Regions from separate parts of the Homo sapiens genome. Here all the other regions are reported to be linked to region 4. The links are microRNA targets in miRTarBase. Many come from high-throughput screens and were not tested one by one. Region 4 holds a microRNA gene; each other region holds the end of a gene's coding sequence.
What was found. Region 4 holds the annotated microRNA hsa-miR-328-3p (CUGGCCCUCUCUGCCCUUCCGU, at 2,094-2,115, shown strand). A microRNA usually pairs through its seed, bases 2 to 8, with sites in the 3' UTR of a target mRNA and lowers its output. Matches are read on the target gene's strand: a 7mer-m8 pairs with bases 2 to 8, a 7mer-A1 pairs with bases 2 to 7 and ends in A, and an 8mer does both.

Region 1 (3,144 bases), not on the chromosome of region 4:
ATTTTTCTGTGTCAGCTTATACCCTTGTTTCCTCTTTTCTTCATCACTATCCACAGATTCTGATATACCTACCTGAAGGATAGTCCTCATCCAGCTCCACCTGATCATCTCCTTTTAACCTCGCTCCTCGGTTGAGCATTACAGTTGATTCTTACTCTGTACAGTCTCACTAGCCAAGGCAATCTTGTTGGACATTTGATTGTTCGAATGTGTGTGTGCATTTTTTCCTCTACATTTCCTCCTTCCTTTGCCCTTCCCTGAGACTGTGGCATTTTTCCTTGGGGAGGGGAGGTGTGGAGTGTGCTCTTCTGGTTGAGAATCATTGAGGAAGGACATCTTGCTTCTGTGATTTCAGATTTCACTGCAATGTTGTTACCTCTTGAAACATGTTCGCTTGAACCGTTTGCTGTTGGGTGGATGGGGTTTGGGAGTTGGGCGGGGGAATGACCTGTTTGAAAATAATTTTGGGTGCTAATTTCTGGGACCCATGTTCATTTTCTGTCTCTCTCTTTCGTTTTTCTATCAGGACCAGTATGTTTTCCTCAATCAGTGTGTTTTGGATATTGTCAGATCCCAGAAAGACTCAAAAGTAGATCTTATCTACCAGAACACAACTGCAATGACAATCTATGAAAACCTTGCGCCCGTGACCACATTTGGAAAGACCAATGGTTACATCGCCTAATTCCAAAGGAATAACCTTTCTGGAGTGAACCAGACCGTCGCACCCACAGCGAAGGCACATGCCCCGATGTCGACATGTTTTTATATGTCTAATATCTTAATTCTTTGTTCTGTTTTGTGAGAACTAATTTTGAGGGCATGAAGCTGCATATGATAGATGACAAATTGGGGCTGTCGGGGGCTGTGGATGGGTGGGGAGCAAATCATCTGCATTCCTGATGACCAATGGGATGAGGTCACTTTTTTTTTTTTTCCCCCTTGAGGATTGTGGAAAACCAGGAAAAGGGAGCTATGATTTTTTTTTCCAAAACAATTTCTTTTTTAAAAAAGACTATTTTATATGATTCACATGCTAAAGCCAGGATTGTGTTGGGTTGAATATATTTTAAGTATCAGAGGTCTATTTTTACCTACTGTGTCTTGGAATCTAGCCGATGGAAAATACCTAATTGTGGATGATGATTGCGCAGGGAGGGGTACGTGGCACCTCTTCCGAATGGGTTTTCTATTTGAACATGTGCCTTTTCTGAATTATGCTTCCACAGGCAAAACTCAGTAGAGATCTATATTTTTGTACTGAATCTCATAATTGGAATATACGGAATATTTAAACAGTAGCTTAGCATCAGAGGTTTGCTTCCTCAGTAACATTTCTGTTCTCATTTGATCAGGGGAGGCCTCTTTGCCCCGACTCCGCTTCCCCTGCCCCCTGTACATTTGTGCTCCATTTTTTCTTCCCTTTTCCCTCCCAGTTTTCTCCAAAGACTCTTCTGTTGGCAACATTTTCAACCCATTGGTTGGGTGAGAATGGCGACTCAAATATCACCTTGAGAATTTCTGTGGGTGGGAATGGGAGAAGCAGAGGAATCCTACAGTGGCAGAAATCCTTTTCTTGTCCCTGTATTATCCTTTTTCTCATGTCTGTATTTGGTATGAAGGATTATTTAAAGGTGCAATATGTGAATTAGTGATTCATGATGTTCTAGGTTTTTAGTAACGTTTTACTCAGGTTGGCATTTTATGTGTCTGTGTCTGTATGTGTGTGTGTATGTTCAGAAGCGTGGCAATCTGTGAACACTTCAGCGTGAATTCAGTGTCAGATTAATCCCTCCTTCCCCAAAGTCCACTGGCTTTCGTCTCTCTCTGCCGTGACACATATCGGAATCTACTGTGTATATATATATATATATATATATATATATATATATATATATATATATACACTAAGCTCTCAAAAACAGTCATTCCTATGAATTGAGGTGTACAAAGTTTGAATTTGTATCAAAGATGTAATTATTATTTTTAAAACCTTTTCACTATACTGCTGCTGTAATTACTTTGATTTTTAAAATGTAGATTAATTTTTTTTTTTTTGCTTCAGGTGTGTATCCACCAAGAATTTCAAATTTATGTGGATTTATTTTATTGGTACATAATCTGTAAACTTCTTAAGGCATTAACATGAAAAGATTTTTTCTTTTTATTTTATATTGTGGCTCAGGTTATATTTTGAAGATGTTTTGAGTTTATCCTCCAATAGGCAATGAAGTTGACAAGGTTTTATGAAGGAATAACCAAGTCCCTGGAGTCCTGTGGCTGTTGCCACAGTAATGTGTCCTGCTGTAAACAGGACAGGTGTGTCCTGTTGAGAATGTGAGCGGGCTCTTCCAGCCTCCTGGTCCCTCCTGACTCTGCCACGCCCCTCACCTCACTGGCACTTCGATAACTGACTGGACGTGTTAATGGGTCTTTTAGGGTTCTAAAGGGTGAACCACACTTTTAAAGCCCCGGCTGTGGTTCGGAGGGTTAGTGCTGTATGCCTTTTATTTCCCTTTCCCTTTGAGGTACTGAAAGGATGAAAAGGTGGTGTCATGTTTTGGGGAGAATCTTACTTCTCAAATGGAAATTGCACTTTTTGCTGAATCCTTTGCATTTTTTTGGTAGTAAGCAGTTCATTGAGTATCAGGTCCTCAAAGGAATGAGTTGGCCCGGCTAGGGTGGGCCCTCTTGACCTAACTTCAGAGGGGGCCTTGGCTCAGTAGGTGTGAATCAGGGAAGCCACATTGTCCTCAGGGTGCTGTATGAAGCTGGGTGTGGGCGGATTCCTCCCACACCTTCACACTGGCCTGCCTCCAACTCATACAGATCTCGGAGCGGTCGGTACTTCATTCATAGGTCCCTGTTCAGGCAGCAGTTCTGTGGGCTGTGGCCCTCTCCCCTCCAATATGTCCGAAACCATTGTGATGGGTGGCAAATCCCAGGGAGCTCCTAAGCCCTGCTCTGCCCACATCACTGCCACAGAGAAGTCAGAGGAAGGGACTTGTTGCTAAAAAATCCTTTAAAAGGTTAAATACTTTAAAAGATTAAAGCAACATAACTGTAAACATATTGTATAAAAATGAAAAACACAGGAACCCTCTTCCCTTCCGCCTGGTGTGGGCTTGGGAAATGGGCAAGCGG
Region 2 (3,156 bases), not on the chromosome of region 4:
CATGGGGATTTATTATACAGATTATTTCATCACCCAGGTATTAAGCCTAGTACCCATTAGTTATTTTTCCTGTTCCTCTCCCTCCTCCCACCCTCCACCCTTTGATAGGCCCCAGTACATGTTGTTCCAAGAGGGAAAAATTTAAAAAACATATGCAGTTAAATAACCATAATGAATAGTTTTCCTAGAAAAAAAAATATTGCCTTTTAAAAAAAATCAAATATGTACTACTTTAAAGGTTGCAACCATCTCATATTGAAAATTAAAGATGTTCCTTCCTAAAATTTTACATTAATCAATTAAATGTTTATGTTAGAAAATTTAACATTAATAGAATAAAAACTGTTTTAGAAACATCACCAAGAACACTGTTGTGGCACATGTTTGCAAATATTGCAATTCCTGCAACATCATATGTATTGAAAAGTCTGGAAAGCCCATGTGGCTGAGAGTTAAATTTATATACTGAAGTAAAACCTGGGAATATTCATCATGCCAATTATAGTTCAATTATTTTATCAGACAGAACTCTGAGAGCAAATTAAAATTTTAAAATTTTACCTATTCCATAGACTGAATTTTTCTAGGTACTATTTTAATACAAATTATTATTATAGCAAAATTCTGAACACTTTTTGGTTGTTAGTATATTTTAAAAGTATTAATATTTCTTTTTACCTCTTAAATATAAAGAAAGCTTCAATTCAGCCTTCTATTCATCCAGATACATTGCATGTATATGTGTTAAAAAAACGACTAGGCAATTAGATTTACTTATCTTACTTTATTCATAAATAAGAATTTTCCTAAGTGCAGTGAGGGGTAGGAGACATGGAAACCTTTCTCATACTTATAGGTGATATTAAACTGAAATATATAACTGCCTTTTGGGAACAGTATTTTTTCTGTTTTCTATGAATTACCCATAAGCATAGCAAAACCAAGATAAATTTAAATTTAATATTGTTAAAGAGCACTGTTCAAGATAAACTTTCATGTATATCACAGTATAGCATTATACAATGATTTTACGTAAAAATATTTAGAAGCACAGTGATGATTTTAAGAAGCCATAAAACATTTTAATGAAATATAAGAAAGTCATGAATATTTATGTGGATATGTATGTTGCAAATTTAAGGTAAATCAACATAGGATAAACACAGAAGATTACATACAAACCCTACATATTTTATTTCTGGTGAAACATATAAACACTTTCCTACTATAGTACAAAATCAATTAGTTCCTCTACCAGCACTAAAGACTTGTCATCTAAATATATTCATTTTAGGGGAGAAAAAAATGCTTCACATTTTTCTAAAATAAAGACTGCAATAAATTAGTGCTTTAAAAAATATATATATATAGGATATAGATCCTAAGAAAATAAAACTAAAGTATAAAAAATGAATAGCATTTCTTTTCCTGCCATCATATCCTTTCTTATCTCATTCCTACATAGAATGAATGATAAGCTAAATTATTTAGACATGTATGGTGACTGAAAGCAATGTCTTCAAGGAAACAGCTTCTTGTTTAGCCTCTTACTCTACCATACTTAGAGTAAAAATCAAAGGATATTTTAGAAATATCTTGTAACTATTGTTGTAGCAATAATCTGTCTTGTTAGAACAACACAATAAAAATGACCTAGAGAATTCCATGAACAATGATACTTGGATTACAAGAGAGCTAAAAATCAGAGGCTATTCCTGTGTGCAAACTATTTTTACCAGTCTAAATACTATATGGTTTACCACTGAACACCCAAGTTTGACTGAAGTGAACATTTGCTACTATCAGTAAAAAACTCCCTCTCTTACAGGAATGGCAGAAATATAGACATTTAGTCATCAAAAATGGCACAATGTACATCACACAAATGATTATATTATGGTTCATAAGGAAAACAGCCACAATTTTGATCAGAGAAATGTTAATACATATGAAGCCTTAAAACAGCAACATGGCGGGGAAGGAGAGGGAGGCGGGAACCTAATGCATTTGAATTAAAGGAAACAGGCAATATTTGGTCGATGTAAACAATGCTATTTAACGAGTGCTTTATCTACTTTACTGAAATACGGAAATACTTATGTACACGATTTAAATGTGCACAAGACTTGGGCTTTTTTCTTCTAGACTATGTACATCATTCAGCACACAATTCAAAAAGTTCTGGTGTATTCAACACACTCCCAGTAAGATTATGTTACACTGAAACATATAATATTAAACTTTCAAGAGACTGCTTTTGATGCTAAGGAGTAATCTATTTTTACAAGAATGCTCAATGGTGGTGATTTCTAGAATATCTTTTTCAATATCACCAAAAATAAGATAAAATTTATTTTAAAATTATGATTTAGAGGTAGAGCTGAAATTATTTATTTAAATTATAGGAAAGAAAGACATAAAATCATTGTGAGAGAATAATGGTGAAAAACATTCTTGCCTAAGAGTCTCCATCTTCTTTGGCTATAGTTGTTGTTTCAAGTTGAAACAGCATCACTAGTATTGCTGCCTTCGAACATTTTGTTTCTGGAAAAAAGCCTTTCCAAATTCATATGTACTGATCATAATGGCACAAGCAGGAGCAATTTTAATTAAGCGAGGAATTAGGCCTGAGAAAAGAATAGGAATAATCAAAACAAATATTTTTTTCTTACCTTATTTTTAAAAATATTATTTTTTGGCTTTATTCTGATAATTATCAAATTAAATGAAGTAATATGTTCAAATCCATAAATTGGTAGAAAAGACTGCTCACTTCCAACATCCTCACTTCAATCCATATTACATTATAGAGAAATTTTTATCTTATTGATAGTAAATCTTTTATTTAACATTTATTTTAACTTATAATAAAGATATTTAGGAGAAAATAAATGTAGTATGTTACCTATAACTTCCTCCTATAAGTTAATTTTAGAAGGTAATATTTTAAAAGTAATCATTCTATTCAATGATTCGGTAAAGCAAGTATTTTTACCTGAAAATAATCCGGAAAATCCATTTTTAGCAACAATGTTCTTCATTATAATCCAGGTTGACATATGCAAAGGCATAGAAACTAAATGTTAAAATAAAGAAATAATGCTATTATAAATAACAATTTAATAATTCCTACTACAGATAACATAGTGTCCATGG
Region 3 (3,155 bases), not on the chromosome of region 4:
ATTACATTTATGTAATAATAATTGCATTCTTTTTTACCCTCTTCTTTGACCCCTACATTTGGGTTGGAAAGTGAGGTAGGACAGAGGTTGTCAAGAGGTGATTCCAATCCAGTTTTCAGGGCTGTTCTTAAAGAACTGAAATGCATTTATTTCCCTAATAAAACATATTATTTATTTGATTTATATTTATAAAGCTAATATGGGACATAGTCAAATTTACATAACTTATAAGCTCTTGGTGTATTTCAGTCATTTCGTTTCAGTACACACAGATATAATAGTAGTACTTATTTCTTCACAGGTTTTACAACTGCCTACAGCATGCTTTGGAAAGGGAAACGATGACTAACTTACATCCCAAGATCAAAGAGAAAAATAACTCATCATATATTCATAAGAAAAAAAGAAACCCAGAAAAAACACGTGCCCAGTGTATTACTAAAGAAAGTGATGAAGAACTTGAAAATGATGATGATGATGATCTAGGAATCAATGTTACCATCTTCCCTGAAGATTACTAAGCTTTGGTTCTGATGTGTCTTGGCCGTAATGTTTCTAGTAGGTTTTATAAAGCTGCTCTTCATAAGAGTATTTTAGTTTGTTGAGTGTATCAGCCATTCATAAGCCAGTAATGACAAGTGCAGAGCTTCAAACTATAACTTTGTTGCCCAGAGGATGTGCAGTTGTCATCTAAGCTCTCAGCAGTACCCGGCTTATCCTACGACTTCACCTGAAATGCTATAGTTATCCCTACTTTTTTACCAGTTTCTCCCAGAAGCACCTGCTTAATAAATCAAAGATGTTTGAATGGTGTCTTATTCTGAAATAACCTGACCTAAGACAGGTATTTAGATTATTTTGGATACATTTTGAAAAGGGATAGCATAAATATTTTAAGTAAAAAGACCTTTATTTTAAATAATAGTGGATATTTTAATGCTGGAAATTAGCATTATAGTTGATATGCCAGAAATTATATCTTTGGTTGTGATTTAAACTTATGCTATAAACTAAATTAATGATGTAAATACATAGTTTTAAACATTCTTTTAGGGACATGTAACTTTTAAGTATCACTTCAATAATACGTATTATTATAGGAACAAAGATTTGGGAATAATTGATTACAGGTGAGGAAGTACTGGAATTCCAGTTCAAGGAGATACCATTTCATTTAGGACTAAAAGGACAAGATACAAGTTCACATGATGGGAAAAATCAGAAAACCTCTCGCAGACAAAGGGTATATAATGGATATGAGGCATCAAAAAGCATGGTATAGTCAGTGATGGGGAATAGTCCAGAAAGGCTGAAACACAGCATGTGATGCGAGTCAAGGTAGTTGATGCCCAACTGTGAAGGGCCGTTCTAATCTAGCATGGAGGTAGACAGTGTTTCCTTAATATGGCTGCATATCAGAATTACCTAGGTCAGGACGAGGCATGGAGATGCTACTTTAATAGGCCCTGCCGCAGATCTTCCAAACCAGAATCTTAATCCTGGAGTCTAGGAATCTTTATTTTTCACACAACTCATCCAAGTGGTTCTGATAAAATCAGTCCAGCACTTTTAGAACCCACTGATAACAGACTTATTCCTGGAGACAGCATTTGAGGAGGAATTGAAGATTTTTCTAATGAAAAGAAAAAGGGTCACATGAACAGATGTTGCAGTGTACCTGTGCCAGGGATTTCATGTGTACACTTTATAGGAGAATAAGCAAGAGCTTAGGTAAGTTATAGTCCTTACCATTGGGTCTAAGGCAGTTTCCAGGAAAGCATGGCAACTCGTTCAGCTATGTAAGTTGAACTCTGTACCACTTGGGAGGGAACATTCCCCTAGATGACAATGTCAGTGGCACTCGAAGTTGTGCAGTGCACATTCTTATCTACCAACATATACAGCAGTCCTTCTGGGAAGGAAATTTGGGCAGGAAAGGGAACTCACAGTGTCGGAATGCCTGGAGCATTTCTTCTAGTCTGGTGGACAGAATATGAAAGTATCTGCCTGGCAGTGCAGTAAATGAAAAGAGAAGATAAATGAATAAAAAAAAAAGTTATAAATAACAGTAGGAAAGAGAGAGTGCAGGTGGAACGAGCCTATCCTGTGGTGAAATGACAACACATTCTGCAGTTTTAAAATCTAAGAGGCTCATTGACTTTTCTTCATTCATTTAAATTGATCTCCAAGAAAACTATGTATTTTAAAGATTCCATAAACTGAATATATGAATGAGAATTAAGAAGAGAGGGGCTGCTTCCTAATCTGTTTATATAAGGTATAGTATAGTATAATCTGTTTATATAAGGTTAGTAGAGAGGAGACACCAGGTGCTGGCCATAAACCTAAGAAGACATTGAATCCCATTCACTCCTTAACATTCCTTAATATACATTCATGAGCTACATAACATTTTAATCATCAATGATGGACCATATACCATATACGATATGGTGGCCCCATAAGATTATAATGGACCTGAAAAATTCCTATTGCTAGTGATGTGGTCATTGTAAAGCTGTAGCACAACACATTACCCACGTTTGTGGTGACAGTCATATAAAAGTATGGTACATATAATTATGTACAGTGCATACATAATACTTGATAATATGTTACTGGTTTGTGTCTTTGCTATGCTTTTTATCATTATTTTAGGGTATACTACTTAAAATGTTAACTGTAAAACAGCTTCTGACAGGTCCTTCAGGAAGTACTCCAGAAGAAGGCATTGTTATCATAGAAGGTGACAGCTTCATGTGTGTTATTGCCCCTGAAGACCTTCCAGTGGTACAAGATGTGGAGGAGGAAGACAGTGATACTGAGGATTCTGACCCTGTGTAGGCTTAGGCTAATGTGTGTGTTTATATCTTAGTTTTTCACAAAAAGGTTTTTCCAATGTTAAAAAAAATATATAAAAAAGCTTATAGAATAAGGATATAAAGAAATATTTTGTACAGCTGTACAATAAGCTAAGCATTATTACCAAAGAGTCAAAAAGTTTTAAGAAATTAAAGTTTATAAACCAAATGTTCATTGTGAGCCAAGGTTAATTTATTGAAGAAATAAAACATTTTTAATGAAATTTTGTGTAGTCTTAGTGTCCAGTGTTTATAAAGTTTATACAGTAATACGTTTATACAGAACATCCTAGG
Region 4 (3,151 bases):
CAAAGGACACCAGGCAGGGCCATGCAAGCTTGAGGACTGAGGTCAGATTGTCAGGAGCCTTCTGGAGATGGCTCCCAGACTACGCCCCTGTTAACGCTGTCCAGGAAGGCATCCATTTGGGGCAGTGCCTCCTACCCTGCCAGTTCTCCTGCAGCAGGCCGGCAGCTCAGCCTCTCCCTTGGCAGGTGCCCCCAGACCACAGGCCAACCCTCCCTGCAGGCCCAGCATGGAGGGAGGCTGAGGACTCACCTTGGAGAAAGGCTGCAGTCCCAGCCTCTCCCCACCCCCTTCAGAACACCAGCCCCTCAACCGTAGCTGTCAAAGTTTGTGGCCTGGCCTGATGCCCCATCTTATCCACCAGCTAAGTTTGAAGGCAGAAGGGGAAGACTGTCACTGTCACAGGCTCAGCCCGCAAGGTACAGAGCTGGCTCAACATATCCCAAGAGCCAAGCAGACTTTATTTCTGCAGCAATCTCTGCTGGTCAGGGTGCCTGCACTCCTCTACCCACTGCCCTTCATGGCTGCTGCAGTGGCCGCAGCTGTGGCCCATGGCCAGCCACACTGTCAAGGTTCAGCGATGCTGCAGTCATAGCAGAAGTTGAAGTTGGTGGGGGGTGGGGGCACAGGGGGTGGCCGCTCGGGGATGGGCACGTTCTCCAGCTCCAGCAGACGCAGCTTGGTCTCCATGGTCAGCAGCTGCTCCAGGTCCAGCCGTGTCTGCTCGCTGCCCATGGGACTGCCCAGCAAGGCACTGAGCCCATCTGTCCACAGGTAGAACTGGGGGTGGCACAGAGCCGTGAGGGTCTGCCCATCTGCCTCCCCTGCCCACCTGCCGACCTCAGCCTGGCGGACACTCACCTCCCGCTTGGAGGGGGCAATGAAGTTGAGGTACGCTTCCTCCTCCCCACGGTCATAGCTGATTGAGAAGGCCAACTCATAGAGGTCCTGGGGAAGCAAGGGAGCGGGGACACTGAGCAGGGGACAGGGTAGGCGGGGGCGGGTGGGAAGGAGCCCCTGGCCCGCTGTACTCACCTTGTTCTGCTTCCCGGAGCCCTTCTCCCGGACATGGGGGCAGTCCTTGCCTGTCAGGAGTGCCCTCATGTCGGCCACAGGGACTGCAGGAAGAAGGCTGGGCTGAGCACTGCAGCCCTGGCAGCCCCGGGGCCCAGGGCGGTCTGGGGAGAGCAGGTATCTGGCCCCCGCCCCTGCCCGCCTTACGTTGCTCGGGCAGACTCTCCAGGGTAGGCGGGCTGGCGCCCTCCTCCATGTCTCCGTACTGCAGCAGCTTGTGGTTGGGGGACAGGCAGCAGAACCACAGCTTATCTGCGTGGAGAAAGGGAAGAGGGCCAGAGTGCTGAGAGGTCCTGACACCAAGCCAGCCGCCCTCTGCCTGCCCTCTGCCTGCCCTCTGCCCCCTGCCCATGCCCATTCAGAGACCCTGGCGCCGCCGGCTGCTGATCTTGCGGAAGAGCGTCCCCTCACAGAGGCGGAGCAAGCGCTGCTGGCGGATCAGGCCCATGAGCTCTGGCTTCAGCTTCTCCCGCAGCTCCCTGATAGAGGGGTGTCACTGAGCACATCTGACCTGGGGAGTAGCCCAGGGGGCACCAAGGAAGGTAGGGCTAGGACTGAGGATCCATCCCCCCAGACTCACAGTATAGGGGGAGCCAGTGTGCCCTCCTGGTGCAGCCGTTCAGTCTGCCGCAGCCGCAGCACCTCCCCATAAGTGAGCGCATTCACCTTGGTTCGGAAGAGCTCCAGGGAAGTGGGCTTCAGGGCCAGAGTGCGGGCCAGCTGCTCCCGCACCACCTGCATGACCTGGGGCCGCCCAAGCTCAGCTCAGGGCCTAAGCTCTGTACCCAGATCAGCCCCCTGCCCTGGCCCAGGCCTCCCAGCTCCCACCCCACCCACCTTGTCGAAGTCCTCCTGTGTAGCCCGCATCTCCTTCCAGGTCTTATTCAACAGCTGGATGCCCACACAGAAGAGCTCGTGGAAGCTCTGGTCTTGGCCGAAGAACATGGGTGAGAAGTCCTGGGCTGTCTCAGAGCCTGGAGTGGGGGGGCAGGAGGGGCTCAGGGAGAAAGTGCATACAGCCCCTGGCCCTCTCTGCCCTTCCGTCCCCTGCTCTTGGCCATGCTGTGCCCAGTCCAGGCCACTCACAGGGCTCCCCAACACGGAGCAGCTCACACAGCAGCACCGTCAGCTGGATGCTGCCCCGGGCAAAGGGGCACTCGTGCTTGTCCTCGCGGCTGCTGTTCTCCAACACAAACTGGGGGCGCAGAGAATGGGGCAAGGAGTCACAGCTAAGCCCATGGGGACCCTGCCTGGGGGATGCTGCCACCCCCCCACCCTACCCTGTCACCGACCCGGCTGTACGCGCTGGGCGCGTTTCTGGAGAAGTACAACATGTTGTCCAGGGCCAGCAGACCGGGGGGCACGCGCTCCAGGTCCTGTGCTGGGTTGCTGTTCTGGGGGAAGTGGGCACAGGCAGTTCAAGAAGGGCCACGGCCGCCTGGAACAACAGCCCTGGGCTGAGGCAGGGGTGGGGAGTTGGGTAGGGGTGATACTCACAGAAAAGCCCAGTTTGCGGAACTCTCGGGCACAGAGGGAACGGCGACGGTCAGCACTTAGCCCGGCACCCGAGGACTCCCCCTCCACCTCGAAGGCAGCCTGGCGTAGGACCTGCAGCTGCTCCCGCTGCTCCTGGGGTCAGTGTTGGGTGGCGGGGGAGGGGATCAAGATTATAGATTCAAGGCCAAGCTCTAAGCCACCCCCTGCCTTGTCCTCACCAAAGACACACACCTGGCTGTAGGGGTCCAGGGGCGTCCGCATGCGCGGCTCCAGCAGCCCCAGCATGAGAGCCTGCAGTACGTACAGGTGATGAGCCATCTCGTCGCCCATTGGTGCTGCACTGTGGATGATGTTCTGCAGGACAGCCAGTCCCTGGTGTAAGCGAGGGCTCACGGGGAGGGAGGGGCAGAGAGGTCCCCCTGGCCCACCACTTCCTACCTTATAGATGAACTGGCGAAGGTTCCTCTGCCAAAGATAGTCAAGCATGTGCTGAGGGGGTAGAAAGAAAGGGGGCTTAGGCTGGGCGCGGTGGCTCACGCCTGTAATCCCAGCACTTTGGGAGGCCAAGGCGGGCGGATCACGA

Region 1: miRTarBase lists PTPRJ as a target of hsa-miR-328-3p. The part of its 3' UTR that is shown has no 7-base or 8-base seed match.
Region 2: miRTarBase lists SLC25A40 as a target of hsa-miR-328-3p. The part of its 3' UTR that is shown has no 7-base or 8-base seed match.
Region 3: the mRNA of TYW3 is a reported target of hsa-miR-328-3p. The part of its 3' UTR that is shown has no 7-base or 8-base seed match.

The regions. Positions count from the first base shown.
Region 1 is chr11:48,166,678-48,169,821 of GRCh38, forward strand. PTPRJ (protein tyrosine phosphatase receptor type J) reads left to right here. Exons shown (of 25, transcript NM_002843.4): 25 at 527-3,144. The coding sequence ends at 685. Among named protein-coding and RNA genes, the nearest start is that of OR4B1, 49 kb to the right of the region's middle.
Region 2 is chr7:87,833,735-87,836,890 of GRCh38, forward strand. It overlaps SLC25A40 (solute carrier family 25 member 40), which reads right to left. Exons shown (of 12, transcript NM_018843.4): 11 at 2,996-3,076; 12 at 1-2,627. The coding sequence ends at 2,515. Among named protein-coding and RNA genes, the nearest start is that of SLC25A40, 41 kb to the right of the region's middle.
Region 3 is chr1:74,763,593-74,766,747 of GRCh38, forward strand. TYW3 (tRNA-yW synthesizing protein 3 homolog) reads left to right here. Exons shown (of 6, transcript NM_138467.3): 6 at 302-3,085. The coding sequence ends at 521. Among named protein-coding and RNA genes, the nearest start is that of TYW3, 32 kb to the left of the region's middle.
Region 4 is chr16:67,201,291-67,204,441 of GRCh38, reverse strand. It overlaps MIR328 (microRNA 328), which reads left to right and starts at 2,047; the gene lies at 2,047-2,121. It overlaps ELMO3 (engulfment and cell motility 3), which reads right to left. Exons shown (of 20, transcript NM_024712.5): 9 at 3,007-3,057; 10 at 2,800-2,922; 11 at 2,569-2,700; 12 at 2,364-2,465; 13 at 2,158-2,266; 14 at 1,909-2,045; 15 at 1,652-1,815; 16 at 1,438-1,550; 17 at 1,219-1,323; 18 at 1,033-1,115; 19 at 859-945; 20 at 438-777. The coding sequence ends at 565.